Homo sapiens: one gene and its partner. The protein of the gene in region 2 interacts with the protein of the main gene of each other region in a pairwise test. Each region holds a gene or a part of one and is shown on either strand. Other genes may lie near its edges.

The links.
Region 1: the proteins of SCHIP1 (region 2) and PRPF18 interact in binary tests that used the Homo sapiens proteins (3 or more experiments, as listed by UniProt).

Annotation. Positions count from the first base shown.
Region 1 is NC_000010.11:13,608,140-13,619,918, reverse strand, and holds part of PRPF18 (pre-mRNA-splicing factor 18), read right to left. Parts: intron 9,881-11,779; coding exon 9,734-9,880; intron 8,305-9,733; coding exon 8,236-8,304; intron 6,179-8,235; coding exon 6,038-6,178; intron 5,905-6,037; coding exon 5,833-5,904; intron 3,522-5,832; coding exon 3,366-3,521; intron 2,980-3,365; coding exon of another isoform or gene 2,938-2,979; exon of another isoform or gene 2,923-2,937; intron 1-2,922.
Region 2 is NC_000003.12:159,268,634-159,280,501, reverse strand, and holds the start of SCHIP1 (schwannomin-interacting protein 1), read right to left. Parts: upstream 7,259-11,868; 5' UTR 6,682-7,258; coding exon 6,619-6,681; intron 1-6,618.

The DNA of each region.
Region 1 (11,779 bases), on a different chromosome or scaffold from region 2:
TAGCCTTACACGATGTTAATTTTTTTATTTGATGCCAACATTTAAAAATAGGAGAATACTTTTTTTTCAAAAACCAAGATTTTCCTTCTCATTAAAAAAAATCATGGAAGATCCAGCAACATTGGAACCATATTCCTACAAGGTAACAATGAGCTCAAGTGAATTCATCAACAGAGAGGCCAAGCATCACTGACACTCAGTATCGCTTCTGCATTGCTCATTTCTCTTACAGCACAGGTGAGAAGAAAATAAAATGCAGCTTCTAGTTGCACCTACATAAGGAGTAGGAAAGTGGAAGACAGAAGCCAGAGGTTTAACCCTCAGCTCACTCGTTATCTTAGTGACTCTTGGGCGCATGAGTTGAAACTTGAGGTTTAAGCAATGGCCTCTAGGGAAAATGGCAGAAAAGAATGAGAGGACTCTGGCCAGAAGGGCCAAAAAGGGCAATGTTTTATGCCTCCAGACATCAAGAGGTGGGTGTCTTCCTCCATCTCCCACCTTGGGACAACTCTGCCTATTAAAAAGCTTCTTACTATTTTTTGCAACTTCTTGTGAGTCTATAATTATTTCAAAATAAAAACGTTTTCTGAAAAAGCTTTGTCTTACACTAACTAAAAATCTGTCCAATTGTATAAAACAAGTTTAATCCTCTTCCATCAGAAAGTTCTACCATTTTCTATAGCAGGAAGTCCCCAACCCCTGGGCCACAGGCCAGCACTAGTCCGTGGCCAGTCAGGCAATGGGCCACACAGCAGAGGTGAGCAGAGGGCAAGAGAATTAGCACCTAAGCTCTGCTCTCCTCTGTCCTGGCATTAGATTCTCACAGGAGCGCAAACCCTATTGTGAACAGCACATGTGAGGGATCGAGGTTGCATGCTCCTTACTAACACCTGATGATCTGAGGTGGAACAGTTTCATCCTGAAACCATCCCCCTGACCTCCCCGATCCATGGAAAAATGCTCTTCCATGAAACCAGTCCCTGGTGCCAAAGATGTCAGGGACCGCTGATCTAGAACTCTTGCCCAGATTCTCACCAAGAGTCTCCTTTCTCGAGGACTAGGAAAAGAGCAATTATTATCACCTCTCTTGCTCTATCATGAATTCATTCAATTAGCAAATATTTATTAAGCACCCACCATGAGTCAGATATTGTTCTAGATTCTAGGGGTACAATACTGAACTATGTTCTTGCCCTGGAGAACCTACACTAAGTTATTAGGTGGCCATATCATACTACAAATTTTATTACACTAAATTTAGTCCACTAAATTCTTTCTTTTTTTTTTTTTTTTTTTTTTTTTTGACAGGGTCTTGCTCTGTCTGAAGTGCAGTGATGCAATCACAAATCACTGCAACCTTGAACTCCCAGGCTGAAGAGATCCTTCTGCCTCAACCTCTCCGGTAGCTAGGACTACAGGCACACACAACCATGCCTGGCTAGTTTCTATTTTTTGTAGAAATGGGGTCTCGCTATGTTGCCCAGGCTAGTCTTAAACTCCTGGCCTCAGGCAATCTTCCCGCCACAGCCACTCGAAGTGTTGGGATTACAGGTGTGAGCCACCATGCTCAGCCTCTAATTCTTTTTTATATCCACTGCCCAAATTATAAGCTTAAGCAAAAGGGTATATGGGTCCAATTTTCTTATGGTAATCCTTCCTTCCTAAATATTGTATTTTTAGACTCTGCCCTTCTCTCTCGTCTGTCAAGAACTTCTAGAATAGCAGTTTCTTTTCCACCTTAACATACACTCCATCCCTTCTAGTTTCTTGCTGTCTGCAAACCTGATAAACCCATCCTTCGGTATAGCCATCCAAGTCAGTCATTAAAAGGTTCGACAGGACAGCACTGAGGTCCCTAAGACCCCTGACATACATCTCTAGCATCTACCCTAAGAGACACGAGTCCATTATTTAATGCTCCATGGCTTCCCTCTGTCAATGAGCTATGAGTCCAGCCTGATTTGCCCTATCCACAAGAATACCACTGGGTCTGCCTCAAACACCTAGCTAAATTTCAAATACAGTATGCTCATCAATTTTCTCTAATCACCTAGGGGGCAAAAGAAGAATTTTTTTTAATGGGAAGAGAACAGTTAAAAAGGAAGAACAATGGAGTAAGGACAGGTCATTACATAGCTTCCAAAATAAACCAGAATTCTTGAATAAATGCTAGGTATACTTAAAAAAAAATCACTCCTCGGGGAGGTGAAAATCACATTACTGTTTATAAGAAATGTCTTTCAGACGATTGATTTAATCATATGAACTTTTATACACTATACCTTTGGCCACAATATAGATGAACACAATTAGCAAATTTAATCTTTGGAACCTGTTTTCTATTGTTAAAGCTAAGCAACTTTTTTTTTTTTCAGCTAAAAGCTTCTGCCTTTAATACACTCACTGGTGGTTATTAAAAAATGGAAATGTGGTTGAATTTCCAGAAGTATATTTGAACTCTGTATACAGTTCACATGAGGGAGTCCGATTGAAATCATATTTTAAAAAGCTATTATATGTGACTAAGGCATAAAGCATGACACGAATTAACATTCAGCACTTGGAAGTGAAATAAAAACAAAAAGATATTTCATGAATATGGTAATGACTGTTCTCTGGCACAAAATCTGAAAGCACTTTATGCATTTTAAGTGAACTTCAAATTTTAAGTAAACTTCCGGAGTATCACTGTCAAGTTTTAGAACTATCATCCAGCAAGTCATTTTACAGACACAATCTGGGATTTATGACAATCTGGCAAACACTACATTATAGTCGATTTTCTTCCCACTAGGGAGAAAAGTTTAGCCCAAAAACAGTACCAACAAGTTTATGTGAAGCATGTATAACTTGAAGAAAACAAACCATCGGCACTTTAGACCTATTCACATGACTAAAGAAGTGTTGTTACGTGCTACGTACATTAAAGCCAAGTCTTTACTCTCCATACATCTTGAACCCAGTAGATGTTAGATTTACCTTGAAAGCAACAAAGCAGGATTTATTGTAAAATACTCTAAGTTTGTTGCTCTTCACTAAACTCCCACATTTCTCTGATGAGCTCAACTTTTACTTCCTAATACACGTCTTAAAAAAAAAAAGCAAACTGCAATCATTTTATTTCAGTGCTAAGGTAATTAAAGCACAATACTTCACCCTTGTCTTCCAACATATATGAAAGTTGAAAGGTTTTTACTTTATTCAGTGAAGGTGGCTTCAGTGTCAGTGCTTATCCAGAGGGGACTTCCATCCTATCACGCTATGTTCTATTTGCTGTAATTCTCTGCCTGCTTTCCAGACTTAGAGTTTTGGGAATTAGAGAATATTCACTTCCAGGGCAATTCCCGGCTCTCCAAACTGCTTACCTGAATATATTTCCGCTGAGTTTCGTCATTTAAAACATGTGCAACATGCTTGGAAAAAATCTTTTCTCTGCCAGTTCTGGCATGGATACCAACCATAGTGACACCGATGGGCCAAGGCGCATTTCCAATGGCCATCTGAAGATAAGCATCATTTGCCTGAAAGGAAAGTGTAAGAAGAAATCAGAAAGGCGAAAATGTTGTACTGGCTCAAATTCTTACTGAAAGTATTTCACAGCCCTTTATGATGTAATTTTCGTCCACCTTTTGGGCACATGGAAAATATTACCATGACTGTTATTCAAACAAAACAGATTAAAATACAGGGTAACAGACTGCCCTGCCCAGGACCACCAATGTCCATGGAAAAAACAGAAACCAAAGCTAGGTTGTGAGTAAAAAAAAGGCAAACATTCCTTTGCAGCCTTTGTATGCTGGAAATTAATATGTTGCAGATCTGGAATTACCAGGTAGGCACTTCAATGCACTGATGAAAATTCTAGTTTTGGTCTCCTTTAGACCCAGTCTTCTCCACAGGGGGTCATGTAGAAGACAGGGGCTAAGTAGTTTTTCATCGTCCAACCCTAAACAATATCCACTCCCTACACAGCACTGTGGCTCTCTGAAGGAAGTGGGGGCTCAGTATGTGCCGACGACCACACAGGGTCTTTAACAGATGTGTAAACAGAGAGGAAACACTGGCCCTCCAGTCGAATAGCTGAAGGATGAGATCGCTCCACTTTGCCCCCCACCCCACCCCCTACCTGCCAAGAACCGTTAAAGAACAGCCACAAAAAATGAAGACAGAAACCAATGAAGACAAAAGGCTTTTTTTCCTAACCAAGCCTGGCTAGCTGTGAGGAAGAACAAGAAAAACATAAAGCAAATAAATTCTAAAGGACCTCAAGGGTTAAGAGAAGCTTATAAAGCCAGGCCTCAAGGAGATTTTAATTTAAAAAAATCAGACACCTATGAGATTGATAGGGAGAGTCAATTTTTTTAAAATCAGATACTACAGATAGGGTAGCTGGAAGATCATTTTCTACCCTAAAGATAAATGTGAACTTGCTCTGCTCACCGGTTTTATAAAGCTTAATTTAAAAAGGGCCTATGTACATTTTTATCACTAATTTTCATGTGTATAAACTTTAACATTGGATCTTAACTGATAAAAACTGCAATATTTAGTTTCCCCCAAATTTCAAAGAAACTGTCTAAACAGGTTATTAAAGCTTCTTGGTTCTTTCTGTAGTTTATACAAAATAAGCTTGCACTTGCACTTAGTTCTGATATGTGATCACGAGAAAAAGCAGTAAGAGGAAAGGCATCCATTCTAGCAGGGAGTGATGTGCATTCTTCCTGCAGTGATGGTGACCTTATCCATCCATGCCAATGCAACCATCCTTAGTAAGAATCATGCAACTGACAGAAACTAAGAAGCACATTTATAACTGTAAGACAAAAAATATTTTCTTTGAGAAAACTGGCTGGCTCTTAAAAGGAGTAAAATCACTGCAGGAACCTCTTTAGCCTAAGGCTCTAATCACGTAAATCATCCAGTCACTCAGGAATGCCAGCAGTCCCTTGTTACGTCAGTATACAGATACAGCACTGGATAAGCAATGTCATTCCGAGTTCCCTACCGCTCTGGCACTGGCACTGGGGTTGCTGCACTGAAATGCTCTACTCCTAGTGCCTTGGGAGGCACGGCCACAAGAAGCCTCCCTCAAACTCTGTTCTTTCTTCATTGCCACTACTGGTGCATTGGGCCCTTCCCTTCTTGTTCCCCTGTACCAACTGACAGTCCTCCTCTCATCCCTTTCTAAACTCTATCTCAGGGAGCCCTGGACACCAGCACCCTTTCCCTCACCGCTGCCTCCCAGAGCCCATTCAGGAGTATAGACACTGGGGCAAGGGAGGAGAGACTTCCACTGCAGGGGTCTGCAACGCTGAAATGGGAGAGATGAGTCCTGGAAGCCTTGCTTGAACCATTTCCCCATAGAAACAATTACAAAGAGTGGTTAAATTCCACTGTACCATCAGTGCAACAGTTCAGCTATATTACAGATTAAAGGGGCTTTTATGACCATCCTGGGAAACTCATCTATACAACGTTGTTTCTATGGGAAAATTTGTTCCAAGACATAATCAGCCATTTACAAAACTTTGAAATTCATAAAATGAACACTGCCTATATAAAGTTCATGCTCTGAAGAACCTTTAGGCCTATTTTAAAAATGACCAAGAGCATACAGATGAGGTCTGTATTTTCTTAGTCAGGTTTGTTATTCACTGCCTAACAGTAAAGCTGGCAAATACAATAGAAAATAAAACGCTTTTTACTACTAACTCATCTCACATTTATTCTTAAATCTACTATGTAAAATCCTCCTATCCCAAATGAACATTATATTACGTACATAACCTAGATATACTCTTAACAATTTCAAAGAACAGCATGGGAATGTACCTTCACGTATTCTCTCTGCAACATGAATTTAATAATATCCGTTATTGATTCTTTAATATCAGCAGGAAGATTCTGAAAAAAATAAATAAGAAATTTTGGAAGCTACTATGTATAGATGTATAGGGAAAAAACAGACTGCATTTATTCTAAATTTATACTGTATTTTTAAAGTCAGTTAAAAAAAGTATTTTCCAAGAAACCTCACCCTTTTCCGTAGCTTTCTAAAAAGTGGTCTTAGGTAGGACTCGGTCTGTTTCTGGGTCGCACTGTTCAGTTTACCCTGCACACTGCGTTTCACATAATCTTCTCTGGCATTCAATTCTTTAGCCCAAACGCCAAGAAGAAACTGTTGAAAGGATGGGTAAACTTAGACTACAATGCCACCCAGTGGTTCAGTACATCTAAATGCTCTCTAGCACACAAAAACAGAATACAATCATCCTTAAAGTAAATGTCTTGATTAAAATGCCACCAAATAATATAGAATAAGCTAGTTCTGCTTATTGGTCATGATAATGCTTTGAAGTAGTACCTTTGGCAAGTCACCAACTTCCCTAGTCTACATCTATTCCTAGCTCAGGATAATTTGCTTCCCTCAGAAAACAACTATCAAGTTTCATAGTTAACTATTTGAGAGGAAATAAACTTGTATTTGTATTTGTATTATATACATAAAATTCAACAAGTTACGAGTTACAAGAAAACTGGACTTTCTACATATGCTGTAGAGACCATGATTAAGTTTAAAAACCATGAAAGCACCTGACTAAAGGAGAGGAAGGAGAAAGAGAAACAGAAATAAAGAAGCCAAGACCCAGCATTCCCACTCCACCCCCACCCCTAGATAACTACCTCAGTGCCCCTTGGGTTTAACTGTATAAAGGGCACCCTTCCTGGAAGTAGGAAACAGAGAAGGCTGAGGAGGATGTTGTCCTCTAGGGGCATCATCTATGCATATCCTAAAAAAGAAGAGGCCATCACTCAAAGAGGAAATTCTAGTTCATACTAATTCTTATGCCCTATCTACTTCCATGCTGTATCCTCAATATATTCAGAATCTTGATGAATAATATGTTGTATCTAAACTGTACACACAAGAAAAAGCATTCCTTGCATGTAAATCTCTTGGTCTGAACACAGTTTGTGAATAAACAATAAAATATCTGGGATTTGTTCATACTCTATCTAGACCACTAAAGAGAGAAATGTTGAGAAGACGGTTGGAATCAGCAAGTCAGCAAAAATAGGCAGCTATTTGTAGAACTGAAGAATTGAGCACTCTCTGTAAGGTTACAAAAAAAACTAAAAAATTAGCTGGGCATGGTGGTACATGCCCTACCACTCGGGAGGTTGATGAGCCCAGGATTTCAAGGTTACAGCGAGCTAGGATGACACCACTGCACTCCAGCCTAGGCAACAGAGAAAGACACTTTTGCTTAAAAAAAAAAAAAAAAAAAAAAAAAAGCTAGAACCCTCTTCTTCCTTGGGTTGTCTAGAAATTCAGCGGGACACTGTGGCTCATGCCTATAATCCCAGGATTTTGGGAGGCCGAGGCAGGTGGATCACTTGTGGTCAGGAGTTCAAGACCAGCCTGGCCAACAGGGTGAAAACCTGTCTCTTTACTAAAAAAATAAATAAATAAATAAATAAAAAATACAAAAACTAGTCGGGTGTGGTGGCATGCTACTTGAGAGGCTGAGGCAGGATAATCGCTTGAATCCAGGAAGCAGTGGTTGCAGCAAGCCGAGATGGTGCCACTGCATTCCAGCCTGGGCGACAGAGCAAGACTCTGCCTCAAGAAAAAAATAAGCAACTCTACCAACTTCTTATTAATTCTGCTGTTGTGATTCTTTTCTATGTGTTTACATTAATGAGCCAGCTTTAAAAAATATGCCACAAGAAAAGCAGACCAGTCGCAGTGGCTCATGCCTGTAATCCCAGCACTTTGGGAGGCTGAGGTGGGTGGATCACCTGAGGTCAGGAGTTCAAGATCAGCGTGGCCAACATGGTGAAACCCGATCTCTACTAAAAATACAAAAATTAGCCAAGCATGGTGGTGGGTGCCTGTAATCCCAGCTACTCAGGAGGCTGAGGCAGGAGAATCACTTGAACCCGGGAGGTGGAGGTTGCAGTGAGCTGAGATTACACCACTGCACCCCAGCTTGAGAGACAAGAGCAAGACTCTGTTTCCAAAAAAAAAAAAAAGCCACAAGAAAAGTAAATATGCATTTTCTCTTACTAACTGCTACATCAAGTGCATAGTGATATCATAAACATCATGTATGTGTGAGAAATGTGTATTGAGGCTTTCCCGTTCCAGCCTTTAACCCTTGGTAATCCAAAAATATAAGAATAGTTCATAAGGATCCAAGGCATCCTCATCCCCTCGCCTAAGACACGCACCTTCAGGAATTTGGTGATGATGTCCATGTCTTTATGATCATCGCCTTTCCCTAAGGACTCTCCAAGCGCCTGAAGAAAAAGAAACAATGCTTCTGTTCATTAATACAGAGCAACAACTAAACATATATATTACCAACACCAGTCTAAACATGGCTCTTGGTCACATATGCTGTTCAATTTTTACTTAAAAATCGGATGGAATTTCTAGATAAGAAACCAAAAACAAAAAACACGGATTTGCCACTTAAATTTGGAGAGCATGTTACCTTTTATGAAAAGTCAAGAGGGGGTAATGAATGTGAGATTTCTTTTTGGGGGAACCAAAATGTTCTAAAATTAGATTGTGATAATGGTTGCACCACCATGTGAATATACTAAAAACCACTGATTTGTATATGTTAAATCAGTCAACTGTATGGTATGTCAATATCTCAATAAAGCTGTTTTTTAAAAATAAACAAATAAATACACCAATAGGAAAAAAAAAAAAAAAAAAGCCCACAACTGGTTGCCCATACCAATTATTTTAGTAAAATTTAGGGACCATAGACAGGTATTGGAGGAGGCAGGGGATTAAAATGACGTCTTCCTCAACTATGATCTTATTCAGAGGGACAGCTACACATACAAGAGCCAGGAATTAAAGGAAACAGAAAAATAAGTTTATGTTTCCTTAAGCATTAAGAACTTTAAGCCATATTTATTTTACATGCTACTTACATGATACAAAATTGCTTTTTAATTAAGATTATACACTAACACTCCAAAAGCAGCACTATAGCAAAAATCAGACAGCAAGATATTGCCAAGCGTTGGCAGGGCTGGAAAGACAGGGGACCCTCACACTGCTGGGTGTAGACTAGGACAGCCATTCCAGAGAGTAACTTGGCAGTACTTAGACAAGTTAAATATACATATATAAATCCCACAATCCCACTTTGCTAGGCCATCGTGGTTATGCACAAGACTGTTCATCAGGAAGCTGTTTGTGGTAGGAGAGAGCTGGGAACAATCTAGCTGTCCATCATTACCGGAGAACAAAAAGTCAAATGCAGTGAATGGCGTAACACATGGAATCCTATGTAGCAATTAAAAGCAAAGGATTCAGTGTACACAGAGCATCAAGGATAGCTCTTAAAAACATAGTGCTAACTGAAAAAAAGAAAAGTAAAACACGGAATAAAGAATTTCACAGCATAACATCATTTATGTAAATCAAAAATACATGCTCACAAAACACTGCAGGTCACAAGAGCACCAACAAACAGAAAGATGCATATCCAACATATTAGAATGGGTTCCTTTTGAAGGCAGGAAGTAGGGGAATGTGAGTGGAGGATGAGAAAAAGGGGAGTAAATAAATAAAAGCGAGGAGTAAATAAACAAAAGACCAAGGACAACAGTGTGCTCTGCCCTCAACAATCTGCCCGACTCAGTCATCTGCTCCAGAGGAAAAAGAAGGGTGCCAGGGATGTGCTGGGCTTGGTGTAGAGATTACCTCTAACTCTTCAATTGTGGTGTTTTCCTCATGAACTTTCAGATCATTCTGTGTGTCTTCCTCTCCAGGCTCCTGACCGCCGACGATTTCATTGAGGTACTGCTGATCAATCTTATCCAAGGCTGCTTTCAAATCATTCCTCAATCCCTAAGAAAAGCAAAAAAAGGAAGAACACCTGTTATGAAAGGAAGAACACCTGTTTTTTCACCTTTGATTTTTCATTAATAACTGCAAATATTTTTTCCCCCACAAGAAGAGTTCAGCAAAAGTAGGGACTCAAATCACATCAATTTATCACACAACTATCACTACTGTCCATTTAAAGTTAATTCTTACGGACCTATTTAAATTAAAACAATGCACAAACAATGGCCAGTCTGCTGGTCAGAAAAATAAAATACACGTGAGTGACAAATCCAAGTAAGAATCTTCATCAATGCTGTAATTTTCTAATGAGGCTTAGTGACAGTGGCAGGTCTCCATTAGAGTCCCCAACCCGTTTGCCCAGCTCATTTACAATGTCTAACCTCAACTACTGTGAACTCCCAAAACATTCAGAAACATCAGTGTAATAAAATTGGTGCCTCATCTATATCCCAGGTTCTCAACTATGTTTCTAGCAAACCAGCAAATTCGCATTTTATGCACATATGGTTCATGACCCTTTAATGAAAATGGAAGCCTCATCTTCCTAAAAATGAATGAGAATCAGCTGCAAGGTTTAAGAGCCAAGGAAACATGGCTGTGAGGCGGCTATAGGGTAATGGTTGAGAGTAAAAGCTATCTGGGTTCAAATCCTTGCCACATACTATTAAATAGCTCTTTGAAAGCTTGCTTAACCCCTGTGTGCCTCAGTAGACTCACCTACAGAATAGGAGTAATGGCACCATCTACTACGTAGGGCTGTAATAAGGATGCTATTTTTTATTTCAGTGAACAGTTACTATGTGATGCAGCTGTTCCAGAACCTCGCAAACATCAAGTCACGCAAGTAAGCTAAGAAATGGACGATGAGCTTTGAACAGTTACTGGAGCACGGTGCACATTCAACCAATGTTAACTCCTAACGTTCTCACACAAAAAGCATCTGATCATTGTCTCCTGTCCCTTCATAAACACAGAAGAGAAACATTCAACTCAAAACACTTATAATTTCTCAAACACTGACTGATCACCTGCTGTGTAAAAAGTATGACGCCAGGCATTCCCAGAGGTCACCTCATCGAATTCTCAGTGCATCCCAGTGAGCCAAATATCACTGCCTCTGTTTTACCAATGAAGATTCTAAGGTTCAAATAGAGTAAAAGACTTGCCAACGGCCAAATAATTGATTACTATAATCCAGGAATGGAATCCAGACCTTGTGCTCCTGTGCTTTGTCCTCAAAACCTCTAGATGCACGGCACAGGACTTGGCATACAAAGGTAAAACAGCCTTTGCCCACCAGGAAGAGATAAATATGCACATAACTCTAATAATAGCGAAAAACAGTAAGTACACTAACAAAGGTTTACTCATAGGCACATGGAGAAGGAAGCAATTAATTCTGACTGGGACCAAAAATAGATTCCGAGAGAAGATGTGGTCACTGAATTGCATGTGAAAGTATAAAAACAAGATTTCAACCAGAGCATACAAGGCAGAAACACAGCAAGCAAAGGAAAAATGATCATTACAGACACAGAGGACTGAAAGCAACTGCTAGTGTTGTGGGGCTGGAATGACAATGCTGGGAAGTAAAGCAGGAAAGTGGTTTGGCAACAAAGAAAGCAGTCAGACAGCCCAGGCTAGCAGACAGAGCAGGTCGGGGAGCGGGCCTGGCCAGCCCCAGCTGTTCCTGCCATTCCAACTGAGACGCCAGGAAAGGGGCAAGATATCAGCTTAGAAGACCAGTCCAGAGGCAGCCTCACATGATTTCGGCCGCAGCCTTCATCTGACTGCAATCACAATAAAGACCCCAAGCAAGATACTGCTCAATCCAGCCCAATAAAACCACAGAACTGGTAATTATTAAGACAATAACAAATTATCTTAAGCTATCAAGTT
Region 2 (11,868 bases):
AACCCTCCAGGAGATGAGTCAAATGTCTGAGCGATGGCCCTGCAACTTATCACATAGGTCCCAGGTCTAGATTAAATTCTCCAAACAAGGCCAAGTGTTCTAGGAAAGGACCTGAAAAGCTCAGCTAGCATCAAAAAGGGCCAGAGAAAGATTCATAGAGATTACTAGGCAGGCTAGTATAATAAACCAGTGAAAGTGGTGGAAACACACATTCCAGGAGGGGCAACAAGGCATAGTCTAGGCATAGCAATAAAGCATAGTCTAGGCATGTGGCCAACTGGAGTCAACAAGAATCACCATGGTCATCAGAAGATCTAATGTGACATCAGGGGCATTTTACAACATCAGGGACACTGGAGTTTGGCTTTTCTTTTTTAGTTTATCTGAGACCCTCTCATAATTACAGAATACACTGCTATGCATATTACAGTAAGCACCAGGACTCTACCCCCCATTATAGAAGAAATTCCCTTCCCTGAATTCTAGCAATCAGGCCTGAATGCATGATCTAAACCAGTCAATGGCATGGCCCAGTTCAGGACTTTGGATCTGGAAGAAGTGTCTCAGAAAAGTGAGGGGTATTTTTGAACTGTGTAACCATTGCATCCAATGTACTGAGGCCAACAGCATTCCAATAATGTTGCCTCTTGTGTGTGCCTTTCCATGGGTTTCTGGCCAACCAACTTCCTTTAGTTCCCTTTTTCTGAGCCTGATTCTCTAGCCTTCCTGTCAATTTAGTGAGTTATCTGTTGTGTTTCTAATAAATTATTTTTCAGCTTAAATTACCTAGGGTCAAGTTCTATAGTTTGCAACCTGAAGACTGAAATTAGCAATGGTCAAGGCTGCAGTAAAATTAACATCAAGCAGATCTAGCAGGCTATACCAGGTTTACAGCAACAGGAACTGTGGGTTTGGAGGAAGAAGTCTTCCCACAGTAGAACAGAAGTCCAGGTATGGCAGAAAGTACTAAGTGCTCTAAAATCTATTTTATTTTCTTATTTCTATGTAACCTGTAGGATATTTCTCAGCCTCCCTTGCAGTTAGGTATGGCATGTGTATTAGTCCATTTTCATACTGCTATGAAGAAATATCCGAGACTGGGTAATTTATAAAGAAAAAGAGGTTTCATGAACTCACAGTTTCACATGGCTGGGGAGGCCTCACAATCATGGCAGAAGGTGAAGGAGGAGCAAAGGCACACCTTACATGGCAGCAGGCAAGAGCGTGTGTGCAGGGGAACTGCCCTTTATAAAACCATCAGATCTCATGAGACTTGCTCACTATCATGAGAACAGCACAGGAAAAACCTGCTCCCATGATTCAATTACCCTCCATTGGGTCCTCTCATGACACATGGGGATTATGGGAGCTACAATTCAAGGTGAGATTTGGGTGGGGACACAGCCAAACCATATCAGCATGTGACTGGGTTCAGTCAAAAGAATGTGAGTTGAGTGATGTGTGCCTCTTTCAGAATGGGCCCACTAGAACCTCCCACATGTGCCCTTTTTCCTTTCTATTTTGCTAGAAGGGAGACAACTGTAAGGTGGTCTTGAGAGCCATGTGTTGAAGATGGCATAGCTCCCACCATCCTGGGTTCTCTGAATGACTATATGAAGAAGGGTCACCCCACTGTATTGCTTCCCCTTTCAGTACTGATGCCTAAACAGGAAAAAAACTGCTGTTTGTGAGCTATTATACTTTTGGGGATCCCTTCGTTACAGCATAGCCTAGATTCACCATGTATGATAAATTAATCAAGCAAAGATTCAAATTCAGAGCAGGGCCAGTATCTATGCTGACTTGATATTGACCCCTTGAATTGATGGTCTACAGCTTCAGGATTTCTCCCAATTTATAAAAGAATAGATGACAATTGGAACAGAATCTTTAAAGGTATATGATGCAGCTATAGCTATACAGATTGAAAGGATACAGGCGAAAGAGCAAAAAAGCTCATTAGAGATTTGACAGTCCTAAATAGAATCATAGAATTGATTAGTGATCAATGAATTCTAAATTTTTCATTTCTTTTTTATGCATTGTAGTATCTCTATGCTAGAGATAATGAAAAGATAAATTATAACTCCAGTTCTGCTTTTTTCTCCTTTAACCTAGTTTTCCCTTCTCAAATAGATCCAAGTGATGCATCTTACTCTCCCTCCTGGGTTTTTCCCAACTCCTGAGGTTTAAAATAAAACCTACCTGGGGTTTTATTTCCCAGTTTTCCCCTTACTCCTTTTCAAGTGGGTGGTTTCTCAAGGAGCTCAGGGAGGATTAATCATCTCAGTTCTTGTAATCACAAGAGTATGTACCCAGTACATATTTGTTGAATGAAGAAATTATTGCTTTCTTTTTTAAATGAGATGACACTGCACTGATGACCCTTATCCATGTCTAAGTTGGAAAAGACCTTAGAGATCACATAGCCCTTCTGCTACACATGCACACACACCATTAGGGAGTCCCCTTCTATAGCATCTTTTATGTGGGTCATCCAGTGTGACTCATCTTTCTGGTGATGAGAAGCTCAATGCTTTATTCCTATACCGTTGAAAAATAGCTCCATCCTTTTTTTTTTTTCTTTTGAGACGGAGTTTTGCTCGTTGTCCAGGCTGGAGTGCAATGGTATGATCTCGACTCATTGCAACCTCCACCCAGTGGGTTCAAGTGATTCGCCTGCTTCAGTCTGTAGCTGGGATTACAGGCACCTGCCACCATGCCCCACTAATTTTTGTATTTTTAGTAGACAGGGTTTCATCACTTTGCCCAGGCTGGTCTCGAACTCCTGACCTCAGGTGATCCACCCACCTCAGCCTCCCAAAGTGCTGGGGTTACAGTCGTGAGCCACTGCACCAGCCTGTAAATATTATTTTTTAATTTCTCCATAAATCTTCCACTGATTGCTCAGTGTTGAGGTCCCTTACTAGTCACATATTCTGATAGAAATTCCCTTGCCCAGGGGTCAGTAAATTGGTTTCTAGCTCCAAATTATTATTCCATTCACAGGTCTTTATCTTCTCCACCAAGACATCAGAAAAAATTCTTCCAAGCCATACTAAAGTCCAGATACAATGCTTGTATTTATATTTCCAGGAATCTTAACAAAAATGAAACATAAGCAAATTTGTATGAATTGCACTAAGGCACTGAAGCTTTATATTCTTTTATATCTACTGTCACATCATTAGGCTGAGTCTGTCTTTGACTGCTTTTAAAAATAGATATTTACTATATCATGGGTAATCAATGTACATGCTTTCTATACCAACATTGTATTCTACACAGTACAGTTCCATCAGTTTCAAAGCACACAAAATGAAACCGGTGGAGAAGTGGGGTTTTTTTTTCCTGCCATTGTGGTGCACAGGAGTCAGAGATCGAGCACTAAAACAGCATTCCAGAGAAGCATGCTACTGAGGTCAATCCAGAATGTTGGATTCAAAATGTGTATTGCATCAAGATGGGTCTTATTAATGGAATCAGGCACTGTGTGATGTAGTGAGTCAACTCCAAAAGTGTAGATGAGATGGTGTGAAAAATCCAAGATGAGAGTCAGAATTACAGGACAAATTAGGCAAGATGGAAGTGGGCTGACTTCGTCCCTAGGACTGGCTGCCTGGATGTGTACTTGTTCTTTACATGCTGCAACTTAAGTTTACTTATGGGGGAGAGTAAAATCCATTTAGAGGGACTGGAATTTGAAAAATTAGTCAAAGTGAGAAAAGCATCATATCCAGACATTTCTATTTGGATAATATTCCTGGACTTTCAGCAATGTGTATATCTTGCATGAAAAGTCCCTAAGCTCTTTTCTATTCTCTGGAAAAGGTAAGATTACTCCATCATTTCTAGTAATATTTAATGTAAATCTCAAATCAGTCAGGTCATACCTAGTTAGGTCCATCATGTAATACAAAGTAGGAATGTACCTTGCAAATAAAATTGGGACAGAGAAAGGAATAACAGTAAAATGTAGTAACTGAGGACAAAAATCACTTGATAGAAAGTTTTATGATGAATCATCAATCTATAGTGATTCTCTGGGATGCTAGGGTACCTCTCTTGAGCCTCTAATGTCCACTGTGCCCCTTGTAGTGTTAGAGACATACTAAACAAGCCTAGAACCCATTTGGAATCAATCAGCATCCTGCTCACTGAAATAACCCCAAGGATCCCTATGTCCCTCTAAGAAGCTACCATTTAGGACCTTCTTGCAACACATTTCAGTTTCAGGCTCTTCCCTACTGGAACTTCTCCTGTTGGGACTGTAGCTAGGGGAGTTGCTTCTACAGGAATATGTGATGGAGACTGATGCAACAGAGATGAGACTGAATACCTTGGATGTAAGAACTATTTCCAAGATGAACTAATCTTTCTTAGTGCCAAAAGGGTTAAAATCAGCAGTAAAAACCACACCCGCCAATTAGCTGCCTCTATATTCAGCCACCCTGCAAAGCATCCTAACTAGGGTGGCTTTCATAAATAAATATGCCCCTACATTCTTTGTAGCCAAAGGTTATAAATCCCTTGCAAGGGTGGGTGGACCACAGTAAAGAGATCTGGGAGCATATTTTTACATTGGCAAGAAAAGCAAAATGTCACTCAACTAAATTTAAGATTGTTCACATACATCTGCTACCACCAGAATGTTATTTAAAAAAGAAAAGAAAGAAAGAAAAAGAAATGTGAATATCTAACAGTTTAGCTCTGAACATTTTTCTACTGTTCAGGTGACTGTTTCAATAATGATTGAAAGGCTATCAAAACAGAAGCAAACATGTGCTTGTAGTTTGTCATACAGCAACAATTTCTGCTTAAATAAATACATAGACAACAATATCTCAACTACAGAAAAATGTGTGTGCTGGATAATAGTTATAAATATATCACTAAAATGTTTGGAAAAAAAGCAGCAAATATAAAAGTTACACTTCTGACAATATCACAAATGAGTCACATCCTTCAGAGAGACAGAGACAAAGATCAAATAAATTTCTGAATCAGAATAAAATCTGACACCATTTCACAGCAAGCAGATGCGTTTTATGACATGAGTCTTGGATTCTTCTGGATTAGAATGTACAATTTAATAAACCAGAATGATTTGTTCAAAGTTCATCAGGGGCTGCAAATGGATACAGTTTGCCATAAGGGAACAATTTAAGTTTAAAATCACAGAGGTACATGCAATGGTGTGTGAAAAGTCCTACTTACCTATTAAACCAAAGCAGAATAATAAAATTTTGGGAAATGAAACTTAAAAAAACTGAAATCATAAATCTACCTTTCATTCTTTTCAAAAACTGAGGCCTTTTAAATACTGACATCAATTATGGAAATTATCAGTGGATCTATTGAGCAAAGATGACAAAAATGTATACTAAGGTCTCCTTTATATAAAATTGTTACATCCTCTAAAATTATGCACTTCATACACTGTCAAAATGTAAGTACCATTTATCCCAAAATCAAATGCCAAATTACTGAAGAGTTAAGAAGCAACAGTAATTCACTTGGAAATTATCCATAACAGAAAGAATCCATTATATTTGAATTGGAGGTCAAGCTGAGTAAATTGCATTTACTACTGGTTTTTAAATATGAAGAAAACTACTAAAGGAAATAAATTTTATAATACAATTATATAAAAATATATTTTATTAGGCTTTAAAATAAATGATTCTGCATAAATAAATGTTCCAAACTAAGTTTAATTGGCCTGAGAAAAGAATCATGATTTGTTAAAGTTACTTTTTAATGACAATATGTTCTCTTAGAAAAAAATTTGAATAGCTAATCAAAATATCTGTTGGGGTCATTCTGGGTAGTAATTCAAAGTATTATTTCTTCGTTGGTTGTGTCATATAATAATATCATAGAACTACAAATTTGATAGTCTAAAAGATGGAGTTAAAAGATGTTTTTGAAGAAACCATTTTTTTTATTTCTGGTTTGAAGATTTAAATTGAACATTTTGAAACTAATTATTTTCAATAATGCTAAAAGTACTATTTCAATAGCCCATATATAATTTTATAAAATTGTCTGTTATTTCTACTTATAATAAGCTGCCACTCTATACATTTCATACCAATAAATTTGAGATTTTTTAAGTCATCAAATATCTCCCATGTATTGACATTAGAATACCTAGACATTTGTTCTTTTGGTAACTGAAAGTATAATCTAAATTGAAAAAGTTTAACACTGATCTTCCCAAACTGTACAAATCAGGAACTACTTTCCAAAGAGAGTCTTGTGCATACAAAGGGCAACAGATTGTACATTTGGAACTATTTACATGTGTATATTAAAATGCTATTTCCAAAGTCCACTGCAATGCAATTAGTTTTGGTGCACTACAAAAAAGAACACTCAAACTTAGATTCTCAAAATTCAAAGCACCAAATATCCACATACTAACTATGCAATGAGAAAGTATTTTTTTCAAATGAACATTCCAATATACCTTAAATGCTTAATTCTGAATTTAAAAATGTAATGAAGGCCATCAGCTTAAATTTAAAGTTACTTAGTTCGACTTTGAAGTTTTCTCTCTTCATTTGTAAAAATATGATACACCTAAAATAGATGGTAGACATTTGTAAAACTTACACTGTCAGAGTGCTTGCCCTGGTCACAGTCCCACGTTGTAACACGCTGCCCGGACCTCTCCATGGTGCTGAAGAGTTACTCTTGCCCATTTGAGAGGGAAGAGTTGTTTATTCAAATTGGCTTTGAAAGAAATCCGTAAAGGGTCACCTGGGTTAGCTAGTAAGGTTGTCTAAAAAATTTCTATAACACACACTAAATAAGTGATGCTTTTGCCCTTCGGTTATCAACCACCATGCTCAAGCAGCTCAAAGTAGATTTTGGAGCAGAAATCTTCAAGTATTGGCAAAAAAGAGCGAGAGCTTTTTGGGAGATGAAGTTTGCTGATTTTTGCCAGTGTTCTTCAAATTGATAAAACACACAGAGAAGACAAGGCTACTCGGAGAACAGAGGATTCCAGAAAAGTTCTTGATCTTAATGCAGAAAAGAAGATCCCATTAGTCCAAAGCAGCCGATTCACTTCATGCTATCATCTGATCTACTTTTCGATTAAAAATAATACAATAAAATAGAGTTAAGAATTCCACAAGGCACTGCACACACCATGTAAACAGGTCTGCCTCATTCTCGCCCCAGCCTCGGTCTGCTGAAGATTATCACAGCAGAAATCAGGCTCTGTGGCTTTCACAGATTATCTCTTTCTGAGGCTGAAACGTATAAAGAGCCACATGACACCCAATGATGTCATCTCTAAAGCAGGTCACAGTTGCTGCTGTATATAGATAAAGTCCTTCTAGTGAAGTATTTAGCATAGTGATTTTCTTGAAAATCTACTTATATTAAATAGCATGGTCTTCTATCAAAATACTTAACCCTATCGATACAGTGCCATGAAGAGAAAATCAATTTGCTGCTCATATGTGAGATGAAGCCTCCCCTTTAAGCTAAGATCAGCTTCTGGTACTGCTTTAAAAAATGAATAACTGCCATTAATTTGTGGTGAATATAGTGAAGAAGGGCTTTTCCCTGGAGAAGCTGCTGTGGGAACTAGAGGCTCTCTAAGGATATAGAATCTACTTCTAAACACCTCTCAGAATATTTAGCATGTCCAAAAATTATTTTTTAATTCAATCCATAAAGATTGCAAAATAAAAATTAAGGAAACCATCTTCAACTTCTAACAACAGTTTATGTAACAAAATTAAAAAGTTATATAAACATAAAAACATCTTACTATCTCTGAAACGATTGGAGTATATTTTCAAGTGTTGGTTAAAGAAAAACGTTCTTTAACTCACTATTTTTAGATGTTTTTCAGTTCTGAATAAAGTAAAAATAGAAAATTAGCTATATTATTACTAATCTGCACACCTAACTGGTAATTCATAGTACACATATTCTTTTAAAGAATGTTTAAATGAGCAATGTCCATGATCATTCTTTGCAACATATTTTTCTCTTTCTATTTAGTCATATGCCATAATTTATGATTTTCAGCCATAATTGTCATTTATGCCAGTTAATAAATTATCTAATCCCCTTTCATGCCAACTAAACAATTCTTATAGCCCAAGTGAAGAATAACTTGAAACTAATCTAATTAGTGCTTATTAAATGTATTCCCTCCCTTAAGGCCAAATGGATCAAACAAAAGCAGCTTTCCTTTAAGAGCACAGTATTCTGTCATATTTTTGAGAAAAAACCATAAATCTGAGGAGAAAACAATTTTCCACACAACCAGTGCCACTGAACAAATTCTATTAAAGCAATGGTGATTGTTCTGGCATCTCATCAGGAAAATATTGCCTCACCAGCTTCTCACCGCGTATCTAAAATATCCAAATAAAAATTGAGAATGCTAAAATATCCAAATAAAATATCCAAATAAAAATTTATTTGGATAAATTTTTATCCAAATAAATTTATGCTAAATATCCAAATAAAAATTGAGAAAAATATCCAAATAAAATTTGGAATATTTTATTCCAAAGGCTAAAATATCCAAAAAAAAATTGAGAAAAAAAATTGATCATCTAAATGTTCTGATCCACTTCAGTTTCCTAAATAAAGCAGATATTTTTGGTCAATTTCTACAGTTTAGTATTTTCTACACTTTAACAATGATGAAGATTATCTGGGGAATTTTTAAAAATTTAAAAGTCCCTGTAATCCCAGCACTTTGGGAGGCCAAGGCGGGTGGATCAAGAGGTCAGGAGTTCAAGACCAGCCTGGCCAAGATGGTGAAACCCCATCTCCACTAAAAATACAAAAATTAGCCAGGCGTGTAGTGGGCACCTGTAATCCCAGCTTCTCAGAAGGCCGAGGCAGAAGAATCACTTGAACCCAGGAGGCAGAGATTGCAGTGAGCTGAGATCGCACCACTGCACTCCAGCCTGGGCAACAGAGTGAGACTCTGTCTCAAAAAAATAAAAATAAAAATAAAAGTCCCAGGCTGCTTCTCAGATATTCTGACATGATAGATCTGTTGTGGTTCTGGAATATGCATTTTTATAAAAAGTTCCAAAAGTAATTATTATTTGGAAAACTCTAATTAATATATTACTATATAAAAAATCATATAAAAATCAAACTGACTAAAAAGTATTTGTGATTCTTAAAATGATTTTTTTTAAAAAGCCCAATTTTTGCTTCCTGAAGTATCCAGTGTTGGGCACCCCCTTCTTATTTTCTCAGGCTTCCATAAGAAAGCATTTTCCTAAAGACTCCTAGCCTCTGATTTCCATCCTTTTCTCCTCTCTACAAAGGTGGAAAGAGCTACACTGATTGGAGGATTAGGCAAAGGAACTGGGCATCTACAGCTCAGGATCACCCTTCCTCTGTCTCTGTGTGGGATCCAGCTCCCTGCACAGGATTCACACTGGCTTGCCCTGTGGGTGAGACTGGTAAGTTTCTCTCATTTCAAAGTTCAATAGTAAGATGTCAAATGTTGCCACAGTCAGAGTTACACCCTCCAATCCAGCTTTGACCGGAAATAAAGTTGAGATTTTGATCTCCCTCTGCCTAAATCTCTTATTTCTGAAAATAAGTTTCTAAATCAAGAAAGGAAAATGAGTTATTTATTGACTTTCTAAAACTCCATCTTCCAGTACTATTGTTTTGTTGATTAGATTTGTTTTTTATGTAAACCCTACGAGCCAGTTAATGCAACAAGTTTTATCTGTGAACTTAATAAAATTTTCATTTGCATAATACAGCTCTATAGATAGAGGCCTATAAAAAGGACATGTATATAAAACTTTCATTGGAAGTTTTGCTAAATGCATTGTTCAACTCATTAATTGCATTATTGAGCCACTTAGAGGAAAATTCGAGTTCTTGGAATTTTCCTTTAACAACTAGTAACTCTAAGATAATGTTTCTCAAAGTGTGTTCCATGGATCCATTAAGCCCAGTAAGATGTGACTCATTTCAGGTTTCATGCTCAAAGAAGCATAGAAAGTGTGAAAAAAATACAGCCTTCCTGCAGAATCAAAATGTGTAGAAACTTAAAAAGGCTCGAAGAAGTCGTAAAGTAAATAAATTGACTCATTTTACCTCTCTTCCAGTTAACATTTACCAACGTCCTGTAAAAGTAATATTTCAGGTACCACATTCAGAGAAATTCTGCTCTAGAAGATGTTTCAGCAGTAAGATTTTTCTTAATAGTAGCACCTAAACCTTCTATACAATTAATCAATTAATAGTTATCATTGCCTATGTTATCAACAGCTCTGTTACAAGAATTGACAACCATGACTGAGGAATTTGTAAATTCTGCAAGGGCATAGGTTGTTTTCTTTTGGTGATCATTGTATCCCCAGTGCTTGGCAAAGGCCTGGCACACAGTAGACATTCAGATAGTTGTTGAACGAGTGAATGAATGTAGACCTAATCCAGGGATGTGAATAATTATCCCCCACCCCGAAAGATGTCTCATTTACAAAAGACCCTTAGGCTAATGAGCTTTCCAGAAGAAATGTAATACAATGATACATCACTCTCCAGTTTCACTACATCTAATTTCTCCTCCGACCCTAAAGCGTCTTTTATACCCATTCAATGAGTGGAATGTTGGTTATGTTGGTTTTTTGTTTTTTTTTTTTGCAGATATAGTAGGTGCATATATTTATGGGGTACATGAGATGTTTTGATACAGGTATGCAATGTAAAATAATCACATTATTATCCGTTAAGTAATCACGGAGAATGGGGTATCCATCCAAGCATTTATCCTTGTGTTACAAACAATTCAATTATACTCTTATAGTTATTTTAAAATGTACAATTAAGTTATTACTGACTATAGTCACCCTGTTCTGCTATCAAATAGTATGCCTATTCATTCATTCTTTTTTTGTGTGTACCCATTACGTTAACTATTCTCAGTTGCCCCCCTCCAGGCTCCCACTCCCTTTCCAAGGCTCTAGGAACCATCCTTCTATTCTCTCTGCCCATTAGTTCAATTGTTTTGAATTTTTAGATTCCATAAATAGGTGAGAACATGCAATGTTTGTCTTTCTGTGCTTTGGAATGTTTATTTGTAATAATAAAACTGGATTTATTATGTAGGTGCACTCTGTGTCTAAATTAGAGATCTAACAATTTATCTCACCAAGCCATAGAATAAAAACAGAATTTATATGAGGACAAATGCCAAGAGTGGACTTAAGGTAAACTACACAGAAAACAAGTTATTTCTCAACTATCTTTATCAAAGGTGACATACTTGATGTCTAGATTTTCACATCTATACTCATAGGTCATTAAGTGTAGAGACTGCTAAGGAAGATTTATTATGTTACTATGGATGAATGAATCAGTGATCAATTAACTGTCAATTTTGCATATCGTTCTGAACTCACGCAATGTTTAATATTAGCAGTCCTTTTGAAAAAATTTTAAATCCCCAAACCAGAACAACATGTTTATTTTTAAACCTATCAAGAAAAATTACCCTCAAACCATGATGTTAAAAGGATAATTTGGGAAAAGGAATCTATATTATCAGCCAATATTTAGAGACATAAAAGGGAGAGGATGTTTGTGGTATAAAGATACTATTTTATATAAAAATAGATTTATGCATACTGTCATATATGTTTATATATTATATAATTTGTAAAACTTTGGAAAATGAAATACTCTCTCAGGCTCTGGTTTGAAAGAAGAGGAATGTATCTACTTCTAAGTAAATACTAAGAAGTCTTCTCTTTTTATATATGGTTAATATATTCTCAGAACCAAAATTTGGAACAAATAGACAAAGAATTTGTGCTATTTGGGGGTCTGAAAGGAAGGATGAAAGATAATGTT